7 linked regions of the Homo sapiens genome follow. The protein of the gene in region 6 purifies or fractionates together with the protein of the main gene of each other region. This does not show direct contact. Each region holds a gene or a part of one and is shown on either strand. Other genes may lie near its edges.

Evidence for each region.
Region 1: the proteins of ZSCAN12 (region 6) and IL37 purify together in Homo sapiens (affinity purification with mass spectrometry; one large-scale study listed by BioGRID and IntAct). This does not show direct contact.
Region 2: the proteins of ZSCAN12 (region 6) and JUP purify together in Homo sapiens (affinity purification with mass spectrometry; one large-scale study listed by BioGRID and IntAct). This does not show direct contact.
Region 3: the proteins of ZSCAN12 (region 6) and POF1B purify together in Homo sapiens (affinity purification with mass spectrometry; one large-scale study listed by BioGRID and IntAct). This does not show direct contact.
Region 4: the proteins of ZSCAN12 (region 6) and CASP14 purify together in Homo sapiens (affinity purification with mass spectrometry; one large-scale study listed by BioGRID and IntAct). This does not show direct contact.
Region 5: the proteins of ZSCAN12 (region 6) and CTSV purify together in Homo sapiens (affinity purification with mass spectrometry; 2 studies listed by BioGRID and IntAct, with this or other methods). This does not show direct contact.
Region 7: the proteins of ZSCAN12 (region 6) and PGK2 purify together in Homo sapiens (affinity purification with mass spectrometry; 2 studies listed by BioGRID and IntAct, with this or other methods). This does not show direct contact.

The regions. Positions count from the first base shown.
Region 1 is NC_000002.12:112,916,428-112,919,888, reverse strand, and holds the end of IL37 (interleukin-37), read right to left. Parts: intron 2,761-3,461; coding exon 2,641-2,760; intron 2,255-2,640; coding exon 2,112-2,254; intron 1,329-2,111; coding exon 1,080-1,328; 3' UTR 1,007-1,079; downstream 1-1,006. UniProt on the Homo sapiens protein: Immune regulatory cytokine that acts as a suppressor of innate inflammatory and immune responses involved in curbing excessive inflammation.
Region 2 is NC_000017.11:41,765,929-41,770,280, forward strand, and holds part of JUP (junction plakoglobin), read right to left. Parts: intron 3,750-4,352; coding exon 3,490-3,749; intron 3,280-3,489; coding exon 3,041-3,279; intron 1,653-3,040; coding exon 1,451-1,652; intron 1-1,450. UniProt on the Homo sapiens protein: Common junctional plaque protein. The membrane-associated plaques are architectural elements in an important strategic position to influence the arrangement and function of both the cytoskeleton and the cells within the tissue.
Region 3 is NC_000023.11:85,369,101-85,373,452, forward strand, and holds part of POF1B (protein POF1B), read right to left. Parts: intron 1-4,352. UniProt on the Homo sapiens protein: Plays a key role in the organization of epithelial monolayers by regulating the actin cytoskeleton. May be involved in ovary development.
Region 4 is NC_000019.10:15,055,081-15,059,089, forward strand, and holds the end of CASP14 (caspase-14 precursor), read left to right. Parts: intron 1-77; coding exon 78-194; intron 195-275; coding exon of another isoform or gene 276-349; coding exon 350-453; intron 454-904; coding exon 905-1,009; 3' UTR 1,010-3,213; downstream 3,214-4,009. UniProt on the Homo sapiens protein: Non-apoptotic caspase involved in epidermal differentiation. Is the predominant caspase in epidermal stratum corneum. Seems to play a role in keratinocyte differentiation and is required for cornification.
Region 5 is NC_000009.12:97,028,690-97,033,024, forward strand, and holds the end of CTSV (cathepsin L2 preproprotein), read right to left. Parts: coding exon 4,260-4,335; 3' UTR 988-4,259; downstream 1-987. UniProt on the Homo sapiens protein: Cysteine protease. May have an important role in corneal physiology.
Region 6 is NC_000006.12:28,386,538-28,390,144, reverse strand, and holds part of ZSCAN12 (zinc finger and SCAN domain-containing protein 12), read left to right. Parts: 3' UTR 1-3,607. UniProt on the Homo sapiens protein: May be involved in transcriptional regulation.
Region 7 is NC_000006.12:49,784,672-49,789,054, reverse strand, and holds PGK2 (phosphoglycerate kinase 2), read left to right. Parts: upstream 1-1,769; 5' UTR 1,770-1,867; coding exon 1,868-3,121; 3' UTR 3,122-3,395; downstream 3,396-4,383. UniProt on the Homo sapiens protein: Essential for sperm motility and male fertility. Not required for the completion of spermatogenesis.

The sequences.
Region 1 (3,461 bases), on a different chromosome or scaffold from region 6:
AGCAGTGTGAGAAAAACCCAAGCAGCGAAGATGGGAGTGGGCCACTAGCCAAGGAATGCAGGTGGCCTCTGGAAGCTGGAAAAGGCAAGGAAATTGACTCTCCCCTAGAGCCTCCCAAAGCAATGCTATCCTGCTGATACTTTGATTTTGGCCCAGTGAGACACATTCCAGACTGACCTCCATAACTGCAAGATAATACATTGCATTGTTTAAACCACTAAGTTGGTGGTAATTTGTTACAGCAGCAGTAAGAAATGAATATACCCAATATCCTTCTAGAAAGCTCCTTTTGTAGTATACTTGTTGCTTAAATAAGCTAGAAGCTATTATTATTGCTTGTAACTGAAGAGCTAAAACTAATAAACTAATTTCCAAGCCTCAGTCTCCTGTCTCCACCCCCTCACTCTGTTTCCAGGCCCTGATTTCTGTTCGGCCAGCCTTCCACTCCCCCATTATGAGGATCTGAGCCCTGCTTAGTGATAGGACCATGCCCTTGTTGACAAGCCTCCCAGACAGTACCTGGCTCCTCCCTCACCTGGTCTCCTGGCTGTCATCTGACCCAGATTCCTTGTCTCTGTGCCTTTCCCACAGGTCAAGTCACCCTGCTCCTTATCTGGGACCTAACTACCCCTTTTCCACTATCACTTGGCTGGATTGTGACTTGCTGTTACATTTCTTTCTTGCACACTGTACCCTAGACACAGACTCAGCCACTTCTGCCCCAGGATCAATGCCCTCAGAATCTACCAAACCCCAGTAGGAAAGACTAATTCTAGAGCACAGCATGCACCCAGCTGCTCCTTCCCACTGCAAGTATTGCACTCAGACTGGCCACATCATAGCATATGACACACACATGCATGTCTGATGGTTCAGGGTAGCAGTACACAAGCAGAAGCCGGTCTCTTTCCAACCCAGAACTTTGTAATTAAACAAGCTTCTTGCTATATCCTAAAAACACAAATCCTTAAAGCATGAATGAGAAATGAAACCCAATGACAGAAAGTTTAGTGAGCAGGTTTGGTGTTTTTATACAATTAGTTCAAATTAGCGAGGAAGGCGTTCAATGGGGCAGTTTCCTAATCGCTGACCTCACTGGGGCTCATTTCAGCTTTGCAAACTGGTTGAAATGAAAATTCAATGTGTTTCCTGTTCTCAAATTTATCTGTCACCCCAACAGGCTCATTACAATTGCAGGAGGTGCAGATGAACCATCCGGGGTGAGCCGCCGACTCCAGCATGTTCCAGGAGCCCACCTGAGCCCTATAAAAGATGAAGGGCCGGCGTGCTGATTCCTTTTGGGCAGCCAGCTTCATCAGTTTCTCCTTCTGTGAGGTAAAAGGGATTAATTAGATAGCACAGGCTTTGAGAGGGAGGAAAACACAGCACATGTGCTCATCCTCCAGGCCTTTACACAGGAGAGGAGGAAAAGAGAGAAGGCAGATGGTCCTTGGGAAAGATGACGTGTCAGCCTTGGTACTGGTATTTAAGGGATGATAAGCAATCCTGCCCTCTTTTCCAGGCCTTCTTGTCCCCCAGATTAAAAATAAACTGAGAGAGAGAGAGAGAGAGAGACGTAAGAGTCAGATGGATACCAAAATCTCAGCTCTATAGTTTTTAAAATTAGAGAATATGGCTTAGATCTGTATCTAATTCAGCTTCCTAAGATTTCTCCCCTCAAGTGAAAGGTGCTCCATCCAGGACTAAATTTGCAGGGCAGACACACTGCCCTCCGAGTGCTCCCTCACACCCTCCTACCCTACAGCAGCACGCCAGGGTCCTGGCCCAATTGTGTTGCTTGCCACATGGAGGGCCACAGCAGGAGGGGACCGCCACCCGCCCAGGGCCAGGACCAGTGAGCCCAGGAGAGGAGAACAGGTGCTCAGCTCCTTGCTGTCTCCCCGCTGTGAGGAGTCTCTCCTCCTTCCCTAGAAGGGGCAAGGAACCAGAGAAGAAGTTATGGGGCTCTTCTGCCTGGTGCTTCCAGAAAGGTGGATGTCCCTGTTATATTGGCCAAGATAAGAATTTGCAGGAAAGCGAGAGGCATTGAGGATCTTGGCCTTTTACTTTGGGGTAGCCAAAGGCCCAGGAAACTGAGCTAGAACTCTCACCTTCAGCTGAAGGGATGGATGACTTTGTCCTTTATCCTTGTCACAGTAGAGACAAAACTCCCCTTTAGAGACCCCCAGGAGAATCGGACTTCCTTTCTCCGCAGAGGCTGAGCTCAAGGATGAGGCTAATGCAAAGAAGATCTCTGGAAAAAGACAGTCAGAACATGTGTGGGTTCTGAGAGCAGGGAAAGGTCTCTCCTGTCTGCTGGGGTTTCAGGCCTGATGCACAGTCCCTCTCCCTTGACTCTGTGGTCCACTTCTCCCTCCATCACACTGGTTTAAGCCTCCTCTTCTTCCAGTCTAAGTGTCTGCCTCCTTCTTTTTCTCCAGCCCTTCCAGAAAGACTACTTTCAGATCTGGTCATTGCTAGAGACCCTTCATCTGATGCCCTAGTCCCTGGGGCCTCTCCTCCTCGCTTCCACCACCTGCTGGAGATGGGGCATGGTATAGCATGGAGTTGAGCCCACCTAGCAGGAGGCCTTACCCCTGCTAGGTGGAGGCAGAAAACACAGCCAAAACTGAGAGTCACCTGGGCGTATGTAGTTTTTATCTGGAACTGCTATGAGATTCCCAGAGTCCAGGACCAGTACTTTGTGATCCTGGTCATGAATGCTGAATTTCTTCGGGTTTAAGTTCTTCACCTTTGGACCTAGATCAATATCACCAGATATCAACACTTCACATTGAAAATGGAAGACTCAGCCCTTTCTTCCCCACGTCCAAGGGCCCCAGCCCTAGCTCTCCACCCTGCCTGTGGGCTCAGACATCACAGCCACTGAATATTTCTTCCACTCCCAGGCTTTCTATCTTGCTGGGACAAGCAATTAAGCTTTCTGTGCAAGCAAATGGGTTCCAGATTTGGACAGATAGATTCAAATCCCAGCTCTGCTGTAGGACAGAGGACAAGTTACTAAGTCTCTCCAAACCTCAATGTCCTCATCTGTGAAATGAAAGTAATAGCAGCACCTACTTGAGAGAGGAGTTATGAGAACTAAAATGCTTACTCAAATAAGTAGCACTTAGCCTGAGCAAAGAAAATGTCTGGCGTATAAAAAGGACTTTTTATAATCATTGTTTTTCTTAACTCTCTTTTTTGCACCCTCTGACTGGAGGCATCATTCCCTCAGCAGTGCCTAGAGTGGAACAGATCCCTGCACTGGCCAGGCTAAGGGAGCGGTGATGGAAGAGTTGGGAGGGTTGGAGGCAGGAAGCCCCCAGGAGCCCAGCACGGTGCAAGGCTGAGCTGGAGCTTTAGTGGCTCCTTTGAAAAGCCACAAATCTTGCACCTGGCCCTGGAGGAACAACTTCTAGCAGCAGGACCAGCCACAACAGTGCTCAGAGGGTTCTTAG
Region 2 (4,352 bases), on a different chromosome or scaffold from region 6:
TCAGAATAAAGCCTGAGGTCTCCACTTAATGAAATGCTATCTGTAGGCTGGGTATGGTGGCCCATGACTTTAATCCCAGCATTTCGGAGGCTGAAGCAGGAGGATTCCTTGAGGGTAGCCTGGGCAACAGAGCAAGACACCATCCCCACAAAAAATTTAAAACTTAGCCCGGGTGCTAATTAGCTCAGTAGTATGTTCTCATAGTCCTAGCTATCAGGAAGACTAAGATGGGAGGAATGCTTGAGCTCAGGAGTTTGAGGATGCAGTGAGCTAGGATCATGCCACTGCACTCTAGCCTGGGTAACACAGTGAGACCCTGTCTCAAAAAAGAAAGAAAAGGAAAGAATGGGAAGGAAGGAAGAAAGAGAGGAAGAGAGGGAAAGGAAAAGGAAAAGGAAAAGGAAAAAGGAAAGGGGAGGGGGAAAGGGGAAAGGAAAGGCAATCTGTCATTATTAGAGGGTGGTTTTGAGGACAATATAGCAAAAAAAAATTTTTTTTAAACATCATACAGGCCAGGCACAGTGGCTCACACCTGTAATCCTGATACTTTGGGAGGCCAAGGCAGGCAGATCACTTGAGCCCAGGAGTTTGAGACCAGCCTGGGCAACATGGAGAAATCCCATCTCTATAAAAAATTAGTTGGGGGTGGGGCACGGTGTCTCATGCCTGTAATCCCAGCATTTTATGAGGCCGAGGCAGATGGACAACCTAAGGTCAAGAGTTCGAGACCAGCCTGGCCAATGTGGTGAAACCTTGTCTCTACTAAAAATACAAAAATTAGCTGGGTGTGGTGGCGGGCACCTGTAATCCTAGCTACTTGGGAGGCTGAAGCAGGAGAATCGCTTGAACCCGGGAGGCGAAGGTTGCAGTGAGCCGAGATCGTGCCATTGCACTCCTGCCTGGGCGACAAAGTGAGACTCCATCTCAAACAAAAAAAAAAAAAGAAAGAAAAGAAAAGGAAAAAAAAAATTAGTCGGGCGTGGTAGCACACGCCTGAAGTCCCAGCTACTCTGGAGGCTGAGGTAGGAGGATCATCTGAGCCCAGGAAGTCAAGGCTGCAGTGAGCCCTGATTACACCACTGCACTCTAGCCTGTGTGACAGAGTGAGACCCTGTCTCAAAAAAAAAAAAAAAAAATCAGGCAGAAAACAGATGCAATATTGCAGATTGTTATGATGACAAGGATGTGTACACATCTGTAATCTGCCCACAGAACAGCTCTTAAGGAAGCACATCGAAATGACAATAGTGGCTATATGAGGATGAGTGATTTTTTTTTTCCCTTATCCTCAAAATAATAATTCTGGGCAATTCAGTCGCATGATGAAGCATGTATATCTGCACCTATATCTCATCTAAAAGGAGTAAGGGGGCAGCGGCCCAAGGCTGTGCAGGATAGAAGATGGCGCAAGGGTGGGCTTCAGGCCTCGGGAGAGTTGGGGAGGGCCCACCTTGCTCTCCTGGTTGCCGTAGGCCAGGAGCTGCAGGCAGTCGGTGGTGATGGCCAGGAACTTGGGGTTGTTCTTGTTGAGCAGGGGCACCATCTTTTGCAGCCCGTCGGCCAGGCGCACGGCCATCTTGGCGCCCTCCTGGTACAGGAGCAGGTTGTGCAGCGTGGTGATGGCATAGAACAGGACCGACTCCACAGGGGAGCTGGGGGGGTGGGCAGGGGTTAGTACGCTGAGGTCCCAGAGGCCTGGCATACATGTGAGCCTGGCATGGGTTCCCACCTCCCCCAGGAAGCCTCCCCGCTACTGACGCCCCTCTGGAAATATCCCTTTGCTAAAATCTCATCACTCCTTGAGCCTGCCCTGCTCTTAAGCATGAAGCAAACAGCACCTCTCTTCTCCCAACTGGGACAATGACTCCTCCTGCTTCTGAGTCCCCAGCCCTGTGCTGAGCGCACAGTAGGTCCCCTAGACACTGATCCCTACTAAGTAACCACCATGTGGAAGGCCACATATTAGAGAGGCCTTGCAAGGCGTTCAGAGGGGAGTGAAATCAGTGTCTCCCCTTCAGGGAGCTTCCAGCCTGGTATGGGAATGAGAAATAAGGCCAGGAGCAGTGGCTCACGTCTGTAAACTCAGCGCTTGGGGAGGCTGAGGCAGGTGGATCACCCTGAGGTTAGGAGTTCGAAACCAGCCTGGCCAACGTGGTGAAACCCCGTCTCTACTAAAAATACAAAATTGAGCTGGGCATGGTGGCAGACGCCTATAATCCCAGCACTTTGGGAGGCCAAGGGGGGCAGATCACCTGAGGTCAGGAGTTCAAGACTAGCCTGGCCAACATGGTGAAACCCCATTTTTACTAAAAATACAAAAATTAGCCAGGCATGGTCGTGGGTGCCTGTAATCCCTGCTACTTGGGAGGCTGAGGCAGGAGAATCTCTTGAACCCGGGAGGCAGAGGTTGCAGTAAGCCGAGACTGTGCCATTGCACTCCAGCCTGGGCAACAGGAGGAAAACTCCATCTCAAAACAAAAAAAAATAGCTAGGTATGGTGGCAGATGCTTGTAATCCCAGCTACTCAGGAGACTGAGGCAGGAGAATCATTCGAACCCAGGAGGTGGAGGCTGCAGTGAGCTGAGATCACGCCACTGCACTCCAGCTTGGGTGACAGAGCAAGGCCTCATCTCAAAAAAAAAAAAAGAAATGAGGCCAATCCACATTTTGTAGGGGGCCAGGAAACAGAAAGTTTGCAAGGGACTTTGCATTTGCTGTTCCCTCTGCCTGGGACACTCTTCCCTTCCTCTGCACTAGCCAAACTCCACTCATCTGTCAATCCCCTGCCATTAAGCGATTCCACCTTTGAGCAATCTCAATGCTCTTCTGCCATAGCCTGTGTCGTATCCTGATCATTAACCTGCTGTTTACATGCCTGTGTTCCCTGCTGGGCTGTGAGCCACCGAGCACCCGGATGGGGTGTGCTTCTGCCTGGCACATAGTAGGTGCTCACTGGATATTTATGGAAGCTCAGGGAAGGGAGGGGAGAGGCCCAAGTGAGAGGGGGTCCTGGGCTCATGCAGTGAGCAGGGTTGGGTACCTGAGCATGCGGACCAGAGCAGGGATGCCACCCGACTTGAAGATGGCGAGCAGCCCCTCCCGGTGGTGGGAGAGGTTGTGCAGGATGCTGGTGGTGCAGCGGGCTGTGTCCAGGTCGCTGGTATTCTGCATGGTACGCACGACAGCGGCCACCAGCTGGGGCGAGCCCATCAGGGCCCGCCGCGACGCCTCCTTCTTCGACAGCTGGTTCACAATCATGGCCGCCTTGGTCACCACCACCTGGAGGGCAAAGGCAGGGGCGGGGACGTGAGCACTAAGGAGAGGCCGGGATACCCTTCCACAGAGCTGAGGAGGGCCCCAGTCAGACTCATCACACACGGGAGAGTCTGGGTCATAACCTCCCTCCACCCCTACAATGTCCCTCCCCTGAGGACATCTGCTCTCTCCCCTCCCTGCCCAGCCCCCACCCTAGCAGGGACCCTCACAGACCGGGTCCTCGTCGTTGAGCAGTTTGGTGAGCTCGGGCAGGGCGCGAGTGGCCAGCTCGGCATCGTCCTGGTAGTTGATGAGATGCACAATGGCCGACTTGAGCAGCTGGGACGGCTCGGCCAGTCGCTGCAGGTTGGTGGCCTGCCCCTCCACCTGGGTGGCCAGCAGAAGCGAGCTGTCCTCGCCTGACACACCAGGGCACATGGCCTCCCGCACCCGTTTGGCCCTGGCTGTTGTGGACATCTGGTACTCCAGATCACCTGGGGGCCATGGGGACAGGGACTGAGTGCAGGCAGTGGGCTGGGCAGACACTGGGGAGCAGGGCAGGCCACAGACAGCCCCACCTGGGTCCTCTGGGCTACCTCTTGCCCTGCCCAAACCCCCAGCACATGACTGGCCATTCTACCTCTCACCAGGAACCTTGGGGAAGTCACCATCACCTCAGTAATCTCTGTAAAATAGGCCCCACATGTTCTGTCCATCAAGGGAATTTTTTTTTTTTTTTGCACACTTATTATGTGCCTGGCAGTGAATTCAATGCCCTGCTTATATTTTCTCACATAACCTGACAACGACCCTGCAAGGTAAGTACTATCACTGGCTCCACTTTACAGATGGGAAAACTGGGCACAGAGGGGTTATAAGGCAGCCTGACTCAGGGGCCCAAACCCCTACTCTATTCTCCTCCCTTACCCATCAGGTCTGTTTTCAACCCTGAAATCTCAGGAGTCTAATTACACCCTCATCATCCCCAACGGTAGCAATCCTCCCACTATACAGGCAGGCAAACAGAGGCCCAGAGAACCACCAACATCACATCTCACAGCAGATCAGAGGGAAAGTCAGGGCTGTGGGTTCAGAGA
Region 3 (4,352 bases), on a different chromosome or scaffold from region 6:
TTCATCCTCCACCACCCTTTATATCAACAGCAATACTGCAGGCTCAGTATTTCTAGGAATCTTTTGCATATATTCTCAGATTTTCTGCTAATAATTGAGAAGACTTGCTCAGACAAATGCAGAGAATTACAGATTATAGACAAAACAGGTACACATTATCCAGTTTAGGAAAATGGTTATAAATACAACCATGTGCAGGCAGGTTTGGCCCACAGACCCAAGAGGAGCAGATTCAAGAAGACAAGAAAAAAGAGGGGTGCTCTTTAGTTATGGAATAACACATGAACACATTCTTAATATAAACATTTATATAGATAAGGTTAAAGACCTTCTCTTGACCATCTTTCCTCCATTCACTTACCCAGAAGTGACTATTGTTGTCAGTTAAGATGTCTTTACATATATACCTATGTATAAATAGTAATATTATTGCTTTCATTGTTCTACAACTTAAACCAAACAGTATCTCTTGTATTATGTACTAGATACATGTTTTAACTCATTATTTTCAATTAATAGTATTCCAAAATGCTTGCTTTATAGCTTGTTTTTATGTTTTCCTGCTGATTAACATTTATATTGTTTCCAGGTTTCCACTGTGCTGCAATGAGCATCCTTGTGCAACATGTTTCTTTAGAATCCCACACAGAATTGGGATTGCTGGGGCATGGAGTATGTGTGTTATTCATTTGAACAGATACTGCCCAACTAATTTCCCAAATTTGACTATGATAATTATACATCCACCAGCAGTGTGTGAAGGTATTCATGTCTAGAGGATGTTTGGTCTGTTTAGGCTGGGGCTAATAATATTATACTAGTATCATTCTGAGAAGACAACTATACACATGGTTAGTATCTGGTAGCTGTTGTAGAAATGATAGCTCTGTCCTTCTTGTAACCAATTCAAATATGATGGCATTAGCAAATGAAACATAGCAAATCTTACTAGCCAACTGGACTAGCTTTTAAGATACAAAAGCGTACTAAGAAGTTTTATAAATCTGCAGAAATTTAAACAAATAGGAATACACACACATCACACATCACAGATAAAGACATTTATTTATGCTAGTATAAGCAGTATTACTTTATTCAGATGTTAAGATAATAGATGTTTAAATGGCAAACAGTTGTATTTGAGCAAAGACTAGTCTTGCCCTAAAATGAAGGAATTCTTTAATCTTCTTATATGTGGAAAGCTGGAACATTAAGTCCATAGATTATAATGTACTCAATTATTTTTAGCCCTACTTCAGCCTTCATTATTAAAATTGATCATCTAGACAAATGTGGCTTTCCCACGCAACCCTCATGGAAACATTAGAGAACAAATATAATAGGTTCAAAAATTACAACATTAAGATGTAGCTTAATATGAGTCAAAGATATTTAGACATATGGTGTTGAACAGCATGAATTTAAATTGCATCAGTATGGATTTAGGCTGATCATAAGGGGGAAAACCTCTCTGAAAATAGGTTTATTAATTCCAGAAATACTTGCTAAAGAAAACCCCTTTTCCCTGGAAGTCTACAAAATTAAGTAAGATGGTGTGAGTAAATGTCCAGAATGAACAAAACCTTGATGTTGAAAGGTACTTTCAATGGCATCAAGATCTAGGCAAGATTGCAGCAAGTCATCCCATAAATAGCCATTGACCATTCCATAGAAAGTGATCCAAAATATTTTTGAAAGAATGAATGAAAAGGAGATCTTAGTTTTAAAAGCACTCCAGGAATAACAATCCAAATCTCCCTCTTAATAACCTGTATCAGTCAGTGTTTAATTTTGTTACTCATCTGTGTATAGCTTACCTAAATCCTTCATGTTGAAACTATTAAATTCAATGAACAGTCAATGTTTTTGTTTTTATGCCTTTTGTGCCACAGCCCCACATTCCTGATGACCAAATAATTGAAGGCGATAATGGGGTGGTGGTGGTTATCATGACATAGTGGAAAAAGTGCTAGACTTGGAGTCAGCAGACCTGGATTTTATTCCCATTTATACTACTAGCCACTTTTGTAATACTGGTCAACTCATGTTCTCTCTCTGAGATTTGTTTCCTCATGTGAGAAATGAGAAATGGGATATGGGTGTGGGCGAGTGTGGATTAGAGGATCTTTAAGTTTGTTTCTGACGTTCTGTGAATATAAGAGACCATTCCCAACTTATTTTTCCATACAAACAAAACAATTTCAAATTTTTTAAACTTGTCAGTATTGTTTTCCTTTTGATGATGATTATAATGATGACTAACACCTATTAATAGCTTTCTGTGCCAAACATGTTACATAGATCATTCTCTTTAACACTCAAAATAACCCCATAAAGAAGATACTATTATAACCCCATTACATAAACAAGTGAAGTTAGACAGAGGTAGGATAGGTAACCAGATGGAGATTACACAGCTAATGCTAAGGTGCTGGAATTCCAACTCAGCATGACTCCAGAACTCATGCTCTTAATCACCATATTTTGCCACGTTTATTGCTTGCTTCATTATATTTTCTGTTTTTCAAGTTGTGTAACCTAATTATATGGTTAAGTTTGACTAGTCCTTATAACAGAAGGTCAAATACTGGGACTTTTAAAATTATTCAGTGTCAAAAGCAACTTTGGAGGCCTGAAAATAAGACACCCACCCACAAGTAGCTGTGTGAGAGAACAGCCTTGATTAGATAATTTAAGTTTCCATAAACTCAATAGAATTTGTAAAACGCGTGGTACATTTACAGAGTGTACTCACAAGCCTCTAAAACTCAATAAACCATTGAATTTTTGTTTAATGCTCATATCATCTAATCTCTTCAATTTTGCAGGAAGACCTTACTTTTTCTGATAAAATATTCAGCATTTTGTTGAGTCGTTTATTCCTGTGGGTCAGACTTGCTATATACACAAACATTATACTTTATTGGCAACTTTAAGTAGAGTCTGGTGAAAAAGAATTTGGGGCCGGGCGTGGTGGCTCACGCCTGTAATCCCAGCACTTTGGGAGGCTGAGGTGGGCGGATCACGAGGTCAGGAAATCGAGACCATCCTGGCTAACATGGTGAAAACCCGTCTCTACTAAAAATACAAAAAAATAGCCGGGTGTGGTGGCGGGCGCCTATATTCCCAGCTACTCAGGAGGCTGAGGCAGGAGAATGGCGTGAACCTGGGAGGCAGAGCTTGCCGTGAGCCGAGATCGTGCCACTGTGCTCCAGGCTGGGCGACAGAGCGAGACTCTGTCTCAAAAAAAAAAAAAAAAGAAATGAAAAAGAATTTGGTTTATAATTATGTGGGCTTGGGGATAATTTCATTACATCACTTGAGATAATTGTCCATACCTTTGTACACACTAAATCTGAGCTAGGAAACTCTGGTTTCCCTAGAGAATTCATTATTCATAAAAGTATATCTTATTTCCACCTATTTGTTAAAAAAGCTGTTTTCAGGGGAACATCACACACAGGGGCCTGTCAGAAGATGGGGACCTAGGGGACGGATAACATTAGGAGAAATACCTAATGTAGGTGACGGGTTGATGGGTGCAGCAAACCACCATTGCCCGTTTATACCTATGTAACAAAACTGCCCTTTCTGCACATGTACCCCAGAACTTAAAGTATATATATATATAAATATATTTTATTCATATTTATATATATTATATTATATATACTATATATATATATACTTTAAGTTCTGGGGTACATGTGCAGAAAGGGCAGTTTTATATATAAGCTGTTTTCAGAGTTAAATCAGATGATGTGCAAATGGCCTAAATGTCTCAGTTATTTACTTTAGTGAAAATGCTTTTGAGTAGCTCAGTGCAGTAAAGAAAGAAGGGAAGGCAGAAGCTCAAAAGGTGTTATTCTCCTTTGAAAGAAAGAAAACCTTAAAAACTTAATATATACCCTGAATTCTAGGATTATTTCTGAGCAAGACCTTGAAAACTAGAGGGAAAACTATTTTTGTCCTCTAATGTATTTTTGATATTTTCCATTCTGATAATGGAACATTAGAATGGGAAAATATACAGTAAGGGTAATCATCAAATGTTTTGTTGAAATAAAAAATGTGAACTAATTTAAACTGAAATCATGAATATCGAAAGTTAATTAAGGGAGATAGCTGATGTAATGAAAATATCAGGAGCTGGTTTTTAAACTCAGGGCATTCACTAACCAGCTGTACTAAATAGGCAAGTTATTTTGAGCTATTCGAGTCTCAATTTCCTTATTTGTTTAACAGATAAATAATACACAATGAATATTGTCTTTATTTGTACATCGTACAATTTGTACAATAAACATAATAATGCATGTTTTATCTAATTGTTGAGGTTCTATCAAGTTGTT
Region 4 (4,009 bases), on a different chromosome or scaffold from region 6:
AGGTGTGAGCCACCCTGCCCAGCCCCTTTCCTTACCTTTCTCTCTGACTTTGCCTCCTCCTCTTCTTGTTGTTTCAGAACAAAGGGACCCCGGTGAAACAGTAGGTGGAGATGAGATTGTGATGGTCATCAAAGACAGCCCACAAACCATCCCAACATACACAGATGCCTTGCACGTTTATTCCACGGTAGAGGGTATGAGCTCCCAGCTGGCCCAGGGATCCCTCTGCTCTTCCCCCTCTCCTGCCACTCCCAACTCCTGAACCTCTCCTCCAGGACCCACGCCCTTCCAGGATCCCCTCTACCTACCCTCTGAAGCTCCCCCGAACCCACCTCTCTGGAATTCCCAGGATACATCGCCTACCGACATGATCAGAAAGGCTCATGCTTTATCCAGACCCTGGTGGATGTGTTCACGAAGAGGAAAGGACATATCTTGGAACTTCTGACAGAGGTGAGTTGACAAAAGGTAGCTGGGACCACCGCCCAGGCCAAGAAGGGTGCAGGCGGAGGGGGCTGAGCCTCCTCCTAACCCCTCTCCATTTCCCTCAGCTCCAAATCCAAGCCAGATCTCAATACAGAAACTAAGAAGCCCACTTTCCAACAACTTTCCCAAATGCAGGGACTCTTAAAAGCCACAGTATGGGAGATAAATTTCTATAAACAAATCCCCCTTGGATATAAACAATGTTTGGGCAAACTGTTTTCTTTTAATGTTTATATGTTTTTATTGCAAATTATTTAAAAAATGCCCAGCCAAGGATTCCATACAAACTATGGTATAGGAAGAGGCCACAACGGTCTCTCATCTTAGGACAAGAATACCCACCTGCCCCGTTCCCTAACCCTCCCCCCATAAGTCCATGACACTGACTCCTCCAAGCTCACCACACCTGTTGCTGCAGGTGACCCGGCGGATGGCAGAAGCAGAGCTGGTTCAAGAAGGAAAAGCAAGGAAAACGAACCCTGAAATCCAAAGCACCCTCCGGAAACGGCTGTATCTGCAGTAGAAGTAGAAAGACCAGGAGGAGCTTTCCTTCCAGCATTCTTTCTGTCTCACAGAAATTTAGAGGCAGCTCTTACCTCTCCCCAAGATCTTCTGTTCCCAAGGCCAAATGGCACCCAGTTTCTTTTCCATCACACCCTTCATGCAGGTCCTCCTGTCCTTATTAGAGCAAGCCAGCCAAAACTTAGCACAAGGCATGGTGGCAACATTAACATCACCTCCCTCAGGCTGGACTTTCTATCTTTATTAATGCAACCGAAGAGACCTAAGAGTGCATTCACTTATCCCACTTTCTGTTCCTGTGGTCTTCTTTCTCCCATGAAGCAGAAACTGGATAAAGCTCAAGATTTTCCATAGACAAACCAAAGCCCACTCATCCCCTCCTACCCCAATCCAACCTCTGCTGGCTCCTGCATCTCACTTGGAGGTCAAACCTCCTCCTGAGGCCAATGCATTCCCAACTTCCAGTTCTTTCCTTTACCCTGGAGAGTTAGTAAGGTAAGAACCATTCTTTCTCTCCAAAACCACTCCTCCTTGGCTGGCAAGTTGGTGTCCTAACTCCGTTCTCTTCCTAGCTCATGGCCTCTCTAGATAATAAAGTTGTCTCCTCCTTTCTGGATCTCTTCCTCCTAACACCCCTCCCCTGAAACCCTGGACTCTGCCCTCTCTCCAAGAAAATCCATCTATTCAACTATTCTTGCATTCAATTACTCTAAATGAGAGCGTGTTGGAGCTATGGCAAATTCCCTGTTGTCACCTTGCTATTTTGCAGACAACATAATATTTAACCTCTCATAACCAGAGAGGTTAAATAATTTGTCAAATGCAATACAGTAAGACAGAGGCAAGGACAAGGTTTGACTTCCAGCCCAGCCTCTTTTCCACAACCTGCTAAATCCTGATCCATCTGAAAACTTTTCTAATTAGTGAAGATGACTAATAAAAATTTTCCCTATCTCCAAGGTAGGAGCTTTCTGGAAGTTTCTAGAAATTTTCAATAACCACCAGCCAAGGTTACCTCCAGGTAACCTTGCAGCACCAGGCTGGAAGTCAGATCGGCTTCACTATCTTCCAACTCTACAGCCTGTATCTCTCCATCCCCAGCTTTGACCTTTCCTGCTCAAGTAACCTACGGGCACATCCAGCGTCACTAAAAACTCAGGGCTTTTCTTCCCGGTTACTCCTCCAAGCGTTCCCTGGTATCCTCAACCTCAGATCCCAGGTTCAGATTTCTGCAGTCAATCTATGACCCCTCTCTTCTTGCATCCTTCATATGCCACCAGACACCATGCCCAGTCCAGCCTGATTTTGAAACAACTTTCATGCCGGTCTTCTCTTCCCTGACATGTTACTGTCCAGGCTCAAGTCCTCAGCTTCTCATATCTGCATCTTTGCAACCAACTTCCTCCCTTGCCTCTCTGCTTTTCCATCCCACTTTTCATGTGTCCTCCATACCATCTATAACAGTGATCTCCCTGGAACACTCAAGAAGACACAACATACCATATTATTTAAAGACCAGGGTACTGGACAGTGGCTCACACCTGTATTCCCGACTTTGAGAGTCTGAAGCGGGAGGATCACTTGAGGCCAGGAGTTAAGAGACCAGCCTGGGCAACACAGCAAGACCCTGTCTCTAAAAAAAAAAATTAATTAACTGGGTATGGTGGCACATGCCTGTAGTCCCAGCTACTCAGGAGGCTGAGGTGGGAGGATGACTTGAGCCCAGGAGTTTGAGGCTGCAAGGAGCTATGATCATGCCAGTGCATCCCAGCTCTAGGTGAGACAGTGAGATCCGGTCTCCAAAATAAATCAATCAATCAAATAAAGACCAAAGTCAAACCGCACATCAGGATCTCTCACACCCTTCCAATTTTGCCATCTACCAGCACTTAGCTAAACCCATCTCCCATCTCTTCCACCATGAATTCACTCTTTCAAAAAGGCTAATGTCTTCTTACTCACCCTTGCCTCTAAGCCTTTGCTATCACCATTTCCCCCAAGCTGGAGGGCCCTCCCTCTCCCTTTACCCCTCTTCCACTACCTCCCACCCCTACTTTTTCCAGAAAGCCATTTCCTCTCTTTTTTCTGATTGATCCTTCCCTCTCACCCAGGATTAGATGCTGGAAATGACCACTTCTGGAGGGCAGGGAACAAGCCCTTAATCTGCATAATGAGTGTTCAATAAACAGTTGTCAAACTTTGAAAGAAAGTGTTGAAATCTTTGTTCTGTGCTGAAACAGTGAGGCTGATACAAAAGGAGTTATGGATTTAATTTCTTTTTTCCCAGTGGCTGGCTTCCTCCCAGGTGTGTCTATCATGAATGGAGAATCAGGAGCTTCAGCCTGTGTCTTCTTTCCTTTTTTTTTTCTTTAAGAGATGAGATCTTGCTCTGCCACCCAGGCTGGAGTACAGTGGCACCATCATAGCTCACTGCACCCTCGACCTCCTGGGCTCAAGCAATCCTCCCACCTCAGCCTCTCATGTAGCTGGGACTACAGGTGTGCATCACCACACCTGGCTAATTTTCTTATTTTTCGGTAGAGATTGGGTCTTGCTATGTTGCCGAGGCTGGTCTCACAGTCCTGGTCTCAAGCAATCCTCTTGCCTTGGCCTCCCAAAGTGCTGAGATTACAGATGTGACCCACCACACCGAGCTCCTGTCTCTTTCACAAAAACAGACGTGTTGGGAATTTGTAAAGTTACAGGCCACACTTTCATGCTGAATGGCTATCTTTTACATAATTGTTCCATCTCCAGAATGTTTCCAAGGAAGTATGCAGACAGAAAAATGTCACTTTTCAGAACTATAAGGGACATTGGAGGTGGGCTAGTTACAGCATCAAAGACATTTAGCAAGTGTGCCATCTCTCTAGCCTGGTGCCCATGGCAGACATGACTAATCAATCACACCTATTTTTCCTAATGAACTCAAGTGTTACCTCAAAGCCTTTCTCCTCTGAGCACTTGGGAAGCTGACACCTGTCTACTGGCATAAGTACAT
Region 5 (4,335 bases), on a different chromosome or scaffold from region 6:
TAACTGAGTGAATAGGATGACCTTTCTCTGGATACCAGTCAGCCTCTTTCCCCAGCCACCCTGGGGTTCACGAACGAAGTGGCCATGGTGGCAAGAATAGAGGTTATGCATGGGCTCAGCAACATAAGGATGTAAGCAAGGGAGGGAGTGTGACTATTTGCTTCACTCGTGTCCCCAGAGCCTAGCACAGTGCTATTGCATAGGAGCCCAATAAATAGTAGATCCTTGAACAACATGGGTTTGAACTGACGGTCCACTTACTTATACACAGATTTTCTTCCGCCTTTGCAACCCAAGACAGCAACTCCAACCCTGCTTCTTACTCCTCCTCCTCAGCCTATTCAATGTGAAGACAACAGCGATAAAGACCTTTATGATGATCTACTTTCACTTAGTAAATATAATTTATCTTCCTTGTGATTGCCTTTTTTTTTTTTTTGAGACGGAGTCTCGCTCTGTTGCCCAGGCTGGAGTGCAGTGGCGCGATCTTGGCTCACCGCAAGCTCCGCCTCCCGGGTTCACGCCATTCTCCCGCCTCAGTCTCCTGAGTAGCTGCGAATACAGGTGTCGGCCACAACGCCCGGCTAATTTTGTTTTTGTATTTTTATTAGAGATGGGGTTTCACCATGTTAGGCAGGATGGTCTTGATCTCATGACCTCGTGATCTGCCTGCCTCGGCCTCTCAAAGCACTGGGATTACAAGTGTGAGCCACCGTGCCTGGCCATGATTTTCTTAATGACATTTTTTCCTCTAGCTTACTGTAAGCATACAGTATTTTACAATACATACACAAAATATGTGTTAATTGGCTGTTTATGTTATCAGCAAGGCTTCCAGTCAACAGTAGGCTATTAGTAGAAAAGTTCTGGAGGAATTAAAGTTATATGCAAATATTTGGCTGCACAAGGGTTGGTGCCCCTAACCTCTGCATTGTTCAAGAATCAACTGTATCCAAATGAATAAATACACTGCAGAACAAGAACACGTTGCAGCTTAGTAATAGTTTTACTTATTAACTTACTTAAAAAGAGATAATGAACATTTGTGAAATTGTTTACAATTGAGATATCCATACACACAAGTCATGTGCTGTGTGATGTTTTGGTCAGTGACTGCATATATGATAGTGGTCCCATAAAATTATGATCCTATATTTTTACTGTACTTTTCTGTTCAGATACACGAATACTTACCACTGTGTTACAACTGTGTACAGTACTCAGCACAGTGATGTGTTGCACAGGTGCGTAGCTTAGGAGCAACAGGCTGTACCATATAGCCTAGGTGTGTAATAGGCTATACCATCTAGGTTTGTGTCAGTGTACTCTATGATGTTCACGTCACGATGAAATCACCCAAGACACATTTCTCAGAATGTATCCCCATCATTAAGCAACACATGACTGTATATATACATTTACTAATGTTTGTTATTTTTAATACAGAAAAGTTTCTTCTTTGCTTTTTAGAAATTTTATCAGTTACAAAAGGAAATAACATTTAGAAAACAGTTTCAACTTTCATAGGCAAAACATACACATGAACCACACATAGGGCTGAGTGGATGTTTCCTTATTGCTAAGTCCATAGCCTCTAGTATGATGCCCAAGTGTCATAACTACACTCCCACATCAGCAAACTCCTCCCTCTTAATATGCTCAGTGATTTCTATCTCACCCTTCCTTACTTCCTTTGCAATTCAAGTAAGAAAACAAACAATTTAGATGTTCGAGTATAGGAAATATTTGCCGAGACCAGCTTGGTCATGGAGACCCTAACCCAGAGGCGCTAGAGAAATTAAAGACACACACCCAGAAATATAGCATGCAGAGTGGGAAATCAGGGGACTCACAGCTTTCAGAGCTGAGAGCCCCGAACAGAGATTTACCCATGTTTATTGACAGCAAGCCAGTGATAAACATTGTTTCTATAGATTATAGATTAACTAAAAGTATTCCTTCCCAAACGAAACAAAGGCATGGGGTCTGGCTAGTTATCTGCAGCAGGAACATGTCCTTAAGGCACAGATCGCTCATGCTATTGTTTGTAGTTTAGGAACGCCTTTAAGCCGTTTTCCCGCCCTGGGTGGTCCAGGTGTTCCTTGCTCTCATTCCGGTAAACCTTCAGCATGGCGTCATGGCCATCATGAACCTGTCACAGTACTGCAGAGATTTTGTTTATGGCCAGATTTGGGGGCATATCCCCAGCAAATATTGGTTAAGTCTGTGCTTCAGACTAGATTTTTCAAGTCTACTGGCTTGTTTGAAAAACGCTTTTAGACAACACATCAGGTTTGTAACTTTTCACAAGTTTAAAATATTTCAAAGGTCTTTGAAAATTATAAAATCTTGAAATATCTCTATTTTAGTTTTCCGAGGGGTGCTGTTTTGACAGATTTGAAATTTTTTTATTTGAATAAAAAGCCATCACTCTTTCATTCAATTTAGTGCCTAGATGTTTCCTTAGAGCCTGGGTTGTTGTTCCAAGAATCTGTGGAGAGTACCAACTTAGCCTGCTGCTGCAAAGACGAAGGAATCCTTTCTCAGAGAAAACTCAAGACTGAATATGGTAGACTGGATTTTCCAGAGATGGCTGTGGACATAGGCTATCAAAGGGTTTTTGGGATACACAGTCCCACATGCCCCTTCCCTCCCATTGCATTCACAATGGATCACCTTTCGATTAAATTTCACCAGCTCATCCCCGGTAATTTTTTATTTGACTGGAAACATGGGCTTTTAAAACACACACAGGGCTCTCCTTTAGCCTGCAGAATGTGGGTATATCTTTACTATTTTCTCCTGCTCATAAAAATACATGCTTTTCACTAAACGAGTTAAATAACCACCCATAATTCACCCACAAGTTTGGTGTACTTTCTTCCAGTATTTTAAATATGCAAAAATATCGTTTTATTTGTATTTACTACCTGTGTAACTATATGCTTAGCCTTTTTCCCCCCATTTTGAGTTTATTTTTAATTCAGGGATTAGGTAGCCAGAGTCTGGCCTAGTGACTTCTGACCTTTCACTTGTGATCTCTTATCCATCTTCGGCCAGAGGCCTCTTTTTGTAGCCCAGCCTCATCTCTTGTGGACCTTGAACAAATTTCTCCAGCTACTGTCAAATGCCTGAGATTTGTTAACCACACCATTTATTTTTGCTAACACTAGTTAACAAATAAGCTTTTCTAGAAGAGCTAGGTGGAATATGTCATCAGAGACTTGGAATGAAAACAAAATACCCTTGGTAACTTACTTGCACCTGCGTCTTCCTCAGACTGCAAAGTGGTCACCAGCAATTCAGAGAGGCTCCAGTAACAAGCAGCTTCACTTTTTATCACGTAACCTAACCATCTTGAGGTTATGTGTCAAAGGAAGAAGACATTTCCTTTTCTAAAAAGTCAACTGCTTTCTTCTTTACTAAAACAATTTAGGGGCTGGGCGCAGTGGCTCACATCTGTAATCCCAACACTTTGGGAGGCTGAGGCAGGTGGATCACGAGGTCGAGAGTTCAAGACCAGCCTGGCCAAGATGGTGAAACCCTCTCTCTACTAAAAATACACTAGGCGTGGTGGCACGCGCCTGTAATCCCAGCTACTCGGGAGGCTGAGGCAGAGAATTGCTTAAACCCGGGAGGCAGAGGTTGCAGTGAGCTGAGATCACACTACTGCACTCCAGCCTTGGTGACAGAGTGAGAGAGACTCCGTCTCATAAAAAAAAAAAATGTAGGTTTGTCCTTCCAAATTGTTTATCAAATTTTGGTAGATTCAGGAGTTGGGTAACACACAGTAACTGGGCAGCTGATATAAAGTCTGTATTTTTATAACTACTCAAGAGCCAGGAAGCCAGCTTTCTGCTAGCATCTTTCTCCTAACATACCATTGGCACATGAAGTTATTATTTCAGAGCTTAATTATATTTCCTGACTACACAAAAAGCCAATGCATTAAAAAAAGGCCCACCTTTATATACGAATTAAAATTTATTTCAAACTGTTTTGTACATCTTTTTAAAAAATGAAAATTCAAAAGTCTTAGAATTAAGCAATGAGTCTTTGATATCATAAAGCTGTGTATAACAATAATTAAAGTAGTGGTAACATTTTACCCTTGTAAAAATGTCACAGAATTAAAATCTCAACTTGGATCCTCAATGATTCAACTGGTTTATCTTACACAATAAGCGTTTGGTCAGTTTCAAGATAAAATTTCCCCAGACATGCTGTCCTTAAGTCCTTCCTCCTCACCATCCATCAGCTCACACATTGGGGTAGCTGGCTGCTGTGGCGATTCCACAGTGGTTGTTCTTGTCTTTGGCTATTTTTACATAGCCA
Region 6 (3,607 bases):
CTATAAGTGCTGTAAATTCTAAAGGACAGGTTACTTTTGCCTGGAGTGGTCAAGAAAGATTTTATTTAAAATAAGGATTTGACGGGCAGACTTAGCAGTCAAAAGGGAGAAAGCGGGTAAAACAAATGTAAGCCATCATAAGAGTGCATGTGGTTTGGAAGCATCAGGGAAAAGACTAGCCAACCTGAAGTAAAAGGTTCGTGCAAATTGGGCAATCAATAGCATTAAGTTGGAAACAGCTTGGGGACAGACACATAAGAGGGCCAGAGTGTGAATAATTTCATCTAATACTTTATAGCACTTGGACATTTACAGAGCACTTTTCTCAATTCCTAAAATACCTTGGTAAATCAAAAGCATTCTCCATTTTAAAAATGAGAATACTCTTGCCTATGGAGATGGCAACATAGCTATAATCCCACACAAAGAAAAAGACCAGTAACCTAAGTGCAGGTCTTTTGACTTCTAGTCCTGGCCATTACTCTAGTGATCCTCCAACTTTGATGAACATCAAAATCATGTTTGGAGCTTGTTTAACATCCCTGAATCCCACTCACATTCTGCTTCATTAGGCCTAGGATGGGAGTTGAGAATCTTCATTTTTATAGCTCCACAGTTACTTAATATACTTTAAAATTTGAGAAGCGTTGAGTTGAATGACAGCTGACTTCATGGCTGTCTGCGAAGTGGGGAAGCCTGAACACAGTCCTATAAACTAAAGGCCACTGCAGACTTTTAGCACAAGGAGATCCTTACAGGGAACATGTGCCATCAGCTCTTTGGAGTGAACAAGGAATTAGACCCCCATCATGCCAAAAAACTAGGATTTTTAGGTGGTCTTTCCATCCCTTCAGATTTAAGTATTCAAAGAAAGAGAGACAGACCTACATTCCAAGGGTCTTCTGAGTGCAAGGCCTTGTGTTGTTTGTTTATTTAGGGGAGGGCCTGGTGCTCTTCTCTGTTTTATGCTTTACCTTCTTTTATTTCTCAGATCTCATGTTAGCACTATGTTCTGAATTCCCTAATAATGGCTCTTGAGAACTGATTTACATTTTGTTGGTTTGTTTACTTCTTGAGCACATAAAAGGACCCCAAATTAGAGATACTATCCCTTGGGCTTCTGAAAAATGAATCAACCAAAACTGGTTGACTCTAACCTTGCCTTGCTGAGTAAAAATTCTGCTTTGGATGAGAACCTGTCTTGATTATTTTAGTGGACAACAGATAAGCCACATGGAAGTACACATGGCTCCTGATCTGTCTTTTTATTTACAGAAATCATTCTTAATCTCTACTGAGATGGCCTGTTATTTCCTTCCTTTTCTACCCTGCCACAGCAAACTCCACAGTTTCTGGGACTAACTTCCTACTACACCCCAACACAACTCCAGTCCTCTCTTCTCTTCACACTTCTAGCTGGTTAGTGGGTTTGAAGTGGTGAGACAGTGACAAAAGGGGAAGGGGAAAAATAAAAGAAGGGTAATCTGCATTCTTCCTTAGTAAGTCCCACTCCTAATTACCTTTCTACACAGCCCTGTGTCTTTGTCCCATCTTCTCTTCACTCCTGTAATATACTCCCCAGCCCCATTTTCTTAGTGCCCCTGTCTCTTGCCTCTCTAGCCATAAACCCTGTATAGAATTTCATCCCTGGGTTGGAACTAGAAGCGTCTCTGGTCCTATAGGAATATTATGTTTCTAGCTAAGTTGTAAATATGAACACATATTCCCATAGAAGTCATAATGGTATAAGTATTATAATTCAGGTATATTAGGTGTCAAATTGGCTTCTGGGATTGGAACTTACATGACTTTCTGTGTGGAAAAACCTTCTTGAGTTCACAAGAGAGAAAGGCAAATGAACAGTTGAAAAACAACTTACTCATAAGTTGAGGACTGCTTAGTTAGGCTTTTTTCATAACCCCAGCATTGGAGTTGCACACATGAGGCACTGAGGCAACTGGGATTGGAAACCTAGTTTTTTTCCTCCAGGAAACAAGGAACCCAGAGTGAGTCTGGGAGCTCTGTAGCTCTAAGTATGTGAGGCCTGTGCTCTACCTAAGTTTACCCTGCCTCCCATTTCTCACATAATGAGAATGCAAACTTGTAACCAAACCAAGGTTCAGCTGCTTGCGGCTCCAAAGCCAAAACTCGGGAGAGAAGAAAATTGGTGCGAGGAAAAGCAGATTTATTCGGAGAGCCAGCAAACTGAGACGATGGTAGACTACTGTCCTAAAGTACCATCTTAAGTCAGTACAAATGTTGGGCTCGGCTCTTTTTATGTTAAGGGCAAAGGGAAGAGGACAGAGTTGGGATGAAGAGGTGACCTATGACCACAGACATCTGGGCGCCAGCAAGAGTCCAAGGAGGTTGGGAACTTCTTTGTCATTGGTTGGGTCACAATGCTCCTGCAAATCTTCAACAAAACATAATTGTTATACATACTTCTTTAATCCCAGAGTTAGTTTTTAAAACTACATGATTGCTGTTTTTGCATATTATCTCTGCTCTAAAATTAGCCTACATGGAGGAATAGGTAAAGGGTCCTTAAACAAAAATGGAGTTAGTTATGGTAGTTCTTTTGCTGTTTCACTGTTAGAAACTCTTCTCAGTGGAGGGGACTTTACTTAGTGATGAGAACCTGTGTGAGAATGTTCTCCTTACCAAACATGCTATGCATACTCCTTATCTAATCTGATTTTATAGACTTGTTATCCAAACTGAAATTACTGTTCATAGTAACTTCAGAGCCTCTCTTTTAATCTGACTGCTCGCTGGAATGCAATCGTTGTTTTAAACTTGCCTTCTACTCCTCTGAGTGCCTTTACTTGGGGTCTTTCCAGTTCATTTTCTGCTTAATATGTTCTGTCATTGCGCACATTCCTCCATTTGCCTTTCTGCACACTACTTAATCTTTCTTATATACCTAATATTATAAAGGGACCATAAACAAAGACTCAGAACAATGGAATATGCCTATTATAGGAGGGTACAGTTCATACTTGTTTAAAAATAAATGTGGAGGCTGGGTGCAGTGGCTCACACTTATAATCCCAGCACTTTGGGAGGCCGAGGTGGGCGGATCACGAGGTCAGGAGGTTGAGACCATCTTGACAATGTGGTGAAACCCCATCTCCACTAAAAATACAAAAATTAACCAGGCGTGGTGGCACATGCCTGTAATCCCAGCTACTCGAGAGGCTGAGGCAGGAGAATCGCTTGAATCCGGGAGGTGGAGGTTGCAGTGAGCTGAGATGGCACCACTGCTCTCCCGCCTGGTGACAGAGCAAGACTCCATCTCAACAAAAATTAAAATAAAAATAAAAATACACGTGGGGGTTTTGTTCTGGTTATTTCTCATGCTTAAATACAGTTGTAGTACCAAAAAAAGGTGGAGTGACATGGAATTTCCAGGTAGGCATCAAAGAGGATTAAACTAGCTTTCCAGGATAAAGAGGAAATATAGTAGAATAAGGCTACTAATTGGAGCTAAATTGGCAATATAGGCAAATTGAAGGCCCTGAGGGGCAAATGGAGGATGTGACATGTTAGATATGGAATAGGAGTGCTACATTAGGGAATGCAGTGAAGAGAGAATGCTTTGTGATGA
Region 7 (4,383 bases), about 21 Mb from region 6:
TATCCACCACTCCAGTACCTCATAGAAAAGTTTACCACACTAAAAATCCTCCTGTGTATCCCCATTATAGTTGACCACGCTCTCTTAACCTGTAGCAACCACTGATATGTTTTCCATCCCTATAGTTTTGCCTTTTATCAAATGTCATACAAATGGAATTATACAATAACTACAAAATTTTTTTGCCTGGCGTCTTTCAGTTAGTAAGGCACATTTAAGTTTTATCCAGGGCTTTTGTGTAAGTAAATAGCTTGTTTCTTTTCTTTTTTTAAAAAATAATATTCCATTGCATGGATATATCACAGTTTATTTATTTATTACTTGAAGAATATACAATTTTGGTAATTATTAATAAAACTGCTCTAAACGTTTGTTTACAGAAGTTTGAGAGAATACAGGTTTTTGATGTCCTTGGATGAATATCTAGAAATAGGATTGATGACTTGTATGGTAAGTCTATGCATATTTCTAAGAAATTGCCAAGCTGTTTCCCAAAATGTCTGTAGCATATTTCATTCCTGGGAGCAACAAATGAGAGTTTCTGTTACTATATATTTTAACACCATTTAAGTTTGCTTTTAAATGCTGTTGACTCGATGTTCAACATTGAGGAACCGATAAACTGTTTTTTAAAGTGGCTGCACCATTAGACATTCCTATCAGCAATAAATGAGGATTCCAATTTGTCCACTTCTTTCTCAACACTTGTTTTTATTTTTTATTTTAGCCATCTTAATAGGAGATGCCTCAAATATATTTCTGTCAAAGCCTTCATTTTACATATTTAGTTCACTCAACTTATGGAGTAGAATGAAAAAAACTGTAAAGCCAATTTTCATTACTAAACCAACTAGCCACATACATTTGCTTTCTCCAAAAATAGAATATCTTACTCACTTTCAATTCTAATATATGTTTTCATCTTCATGAAAACCATGCATTTATTTTTCAGCTCAATTTCTAAGTTGTACAGGTAGGAAAGCAAACAGAGAGGAGACAAAAAATAAGGAGCCTCATCATAACATTGTAGTCTGAAAGAAATGTCACCATTACTTTCAGCACTTGTTACTGATACTCTCTTTGCTATGATCTTATGGGATTCTCCTGCAGAAGTGACCAAACATTCTTTCATGGTAGTCTGAAAATGGAAGAAGCAAAGTAATGAAAATATGACAGCATTCCCACCACGTCCCAGAATAGATCTAAAGATGAAGACTAACAACAAGCCACATCCTCAAAGAAATATTTATCAAGACAAGGAAAAAACAGAACTATACTATCCTGACTTGAATAAGCAAGGTTTCATATGAAAATCATTATTTCAAATATTCCTTTTATTTGGCACTGCAGAGGTTTTTACATATCAAAATGGTTAAGATTTGACATGAATGAGGTGTATGTAGGTTTGCGGGGGTGGGGGTGGAGTTCTTTTTGTTTTGTTTTTAATAATAAAAGCAACTGTTAACCGAGCTGTGGGGTGGGGGCAAAAAGAGCCAGAAGGCGGCGCACACCTCAGGACTATTCTTGTTTTTTTAGAACCATTCTTATTCTGGGGTTTCTTCACCTACCCAAGTCTCGCCTGAAGCCAGGTACAGCTCTATTCCACTACATGACCCTCTGCCCAGGAAGTTGGAATCTTCACCTAGCAACACAGTTCAGATCGAGATTGACAGGACCATGAGCCAATCACAAAGCTAGATTTGCTTTCCAGTCTAACAGTGGCCGTTGTGCTGGAGACAGTGAGGAGAAGAAAGGGGCGGGACAAGGGCAAAGGCGTTAGAAGTCACCACCGACCCAGCCCCTCAACAGCAAGTTGGTTCTTCAGCATTAAGATCCAGGTGTCAGCCTATGTCTTTATATTGTCAAGATGTCTCTTTCTAAGAAGTTGACTTTAGACAAACTGGATGTTAGAGGGAAGCGAGTCATCATGAGAGTAGACTTCAATGTTCCCATGAAGAAGAACCAGATTACAAACAACCAGAGGATCAAGGCTTCCATCCCAAGCATCAAGTACTGCCTGGACAATGGAGCCAAGGCAGTAGTTCTTATGAGTCATCTAGGTCGGCCTGATGGTGTTCCCATGCCTGACAAATATTCCTTAGCACCTGTTGCTGTTGAGCTCAAATCCTTGCTGGGCAAGGATGTTCTGTTCCTGAAGGACTGTGTAGGCGCAGAAGTGGAGAAAGCCTGTGCCAACCCAGCTCCTGGTTCAGTCATCCTGCTGGAGAACCTGCGCTTTCATGTGGAGGAAGAAGGGAAGGGCCAAGATCCCTCTGGAAAGAAGATTAAAGCTGAGCCAGATAAAATAGAAGCCTTCCGAGCATCACTTTCCAAGCTAGGGGACGTCTATGTCAATGATGCTTTTGGCACTGCACACCGCGCTCATAGTTCCATGGTGGGAGTGAATCTGCCCCATAAAGCATCCGGATTCTTGATGAAGAAGGAACTAGATTACTTTGCTAAAGCCTTGGAAAACCCAGTGAGACCCTTTCTGGCTATACTTGGTGGAGCCAAAGTGGCAGACAAGATCCAACTTATCAAAAATATGCTGGACAAAGTCAATGAGATGATTATTGGTGGTGGAATGGCTTATACCTTCCTTAAGGTACTCAACAACATGGAGATTGGTGCTTCCCTGTTTGATGAAGAGGGAGCCAAGATCGTTAAAGATATCATGGCCAAAGCACAAAAGAATGGTGTAAGGATTACTTTTCCTGTTGATTTTGTTACTGGGGACAAGTTTGACGAGAACGCTCAGGTTGGAAAAGCCACTGTAGCATCTGGCATATCTCCTGGCTGGATGGGTTTGGACTGTGGTCCTGAGAGCAACAAGAATCATGCTCAAGTTGTGGCTCAAGCAAGGCTAATTGTTTGGAATGGGCCGTTAGGAGTATTTGAATGGGATGCCTTTGCTAAGGGAACCAAAGCCCTCATGGATGAAATTGTGAAAGCCACTTCCAAGGGCTGCATCACTGTTATAGGGGGTGGAGACACTGCTACTTGCTGTGCCAAATGGAACACTGAAGATAAAGTCAGCCATGTCAGCACTGGAGGCGGTGCCAGTCTAGAGCTTCTGGAAGGTAAAATCCTTCCTGGAGTAGAGGCCCTCAGCAACATGTAGTTAATATAGTGTTACTTCCTTCTGTTTTCTGTCCATGGCCCTTAAGTCAGCTTAATGCTTTTACATCTCGATGTGACTTTTGTTAAAATCTACTCCTAGATCAAGACCTATGTAATGGACAAGCAGCAGGCCATCAGGAACTCTTAATATCAGCACAGCAATTCATTTTAGTTTGGTCACGCATTTGCCTGTTCAAGTTCTCATTTGAACTTCACCATTGTGCTATCTAGGGAGGACATATTCTTAAGTTGCCTATTAAAGAAAGTGAGCTGAAGAAACTGAATCTTTTTATTTTAGTCCAACTTTGCTATTGTTTCATAATTTGAAACCCAAAAGATAAAACTTAATTTGTTGGGAAAGGGTGGAATGAAAGTTGACAAACAAACAATAAATATGCCCAAATAAACTGAGAAAAATAATTACATATAAAGAACTCATGGGTACCATTAAAGTTCTGCTAAGGGGAAATGTTATACTAAATAGGACCAAAAAAAAGAGAAATGAAAGACACTTATTAAACCCAAGGAATTTTTAAAAAGAAAAGAAATTAAACTCAAGGTAAGAATTATGTTTGTGTGCATATCAATGCACAAGATTACACACAAATGCCAGCTAGAAAAAGAGCTACAAGTTAAACCCAAGTTGTAAATAAGTAATTGTTTTATTTTTAAGGCAGGCATTATTTAATAAATAGATAATATAACTGGTAAGTTCTAAAACTTGGTTTTTGAGATAAATAAAATATATATACATAGCTGGTTTAATAATGGGAAAATAGAGATAAAAATTCTCTATTAGAAAACAGAAGATAAAATGATAAGAAATGTAGAAAAAACAAAAACACTTATTGGAAAATATTTTGCTTTATTCTGTAGACAGAGGTAGTTTAGGGCAATGCTATTAACAAGAATAGTAATTAAGAGTAAAAATGCAGATTAACCTTTCCCAGCTATAATGTCTTATGTCCCATAACCGCAGATCAATTGTGATATTCAATATCCTGAATAATTGAGCTTCAAATATGAATCTTAATACATCTGAAATTTCAACATATTTTAAGCAGAATGTTAATATCATAGTAATCCCAGGAAAGATGTAGGAGTTAGGATTAATGGAACCAAAACTTGAGTAGTTGAAACAAGAATAAAACATGTCGCTCTCTCACATGAGAATCCAGGGCAAATAACATGGGCTTTCCTTTTTAAGGTCATCTAGGGAACCAAACTGGTGAAACAGATCTGTTACTCCCAGTGAGGGGGTTC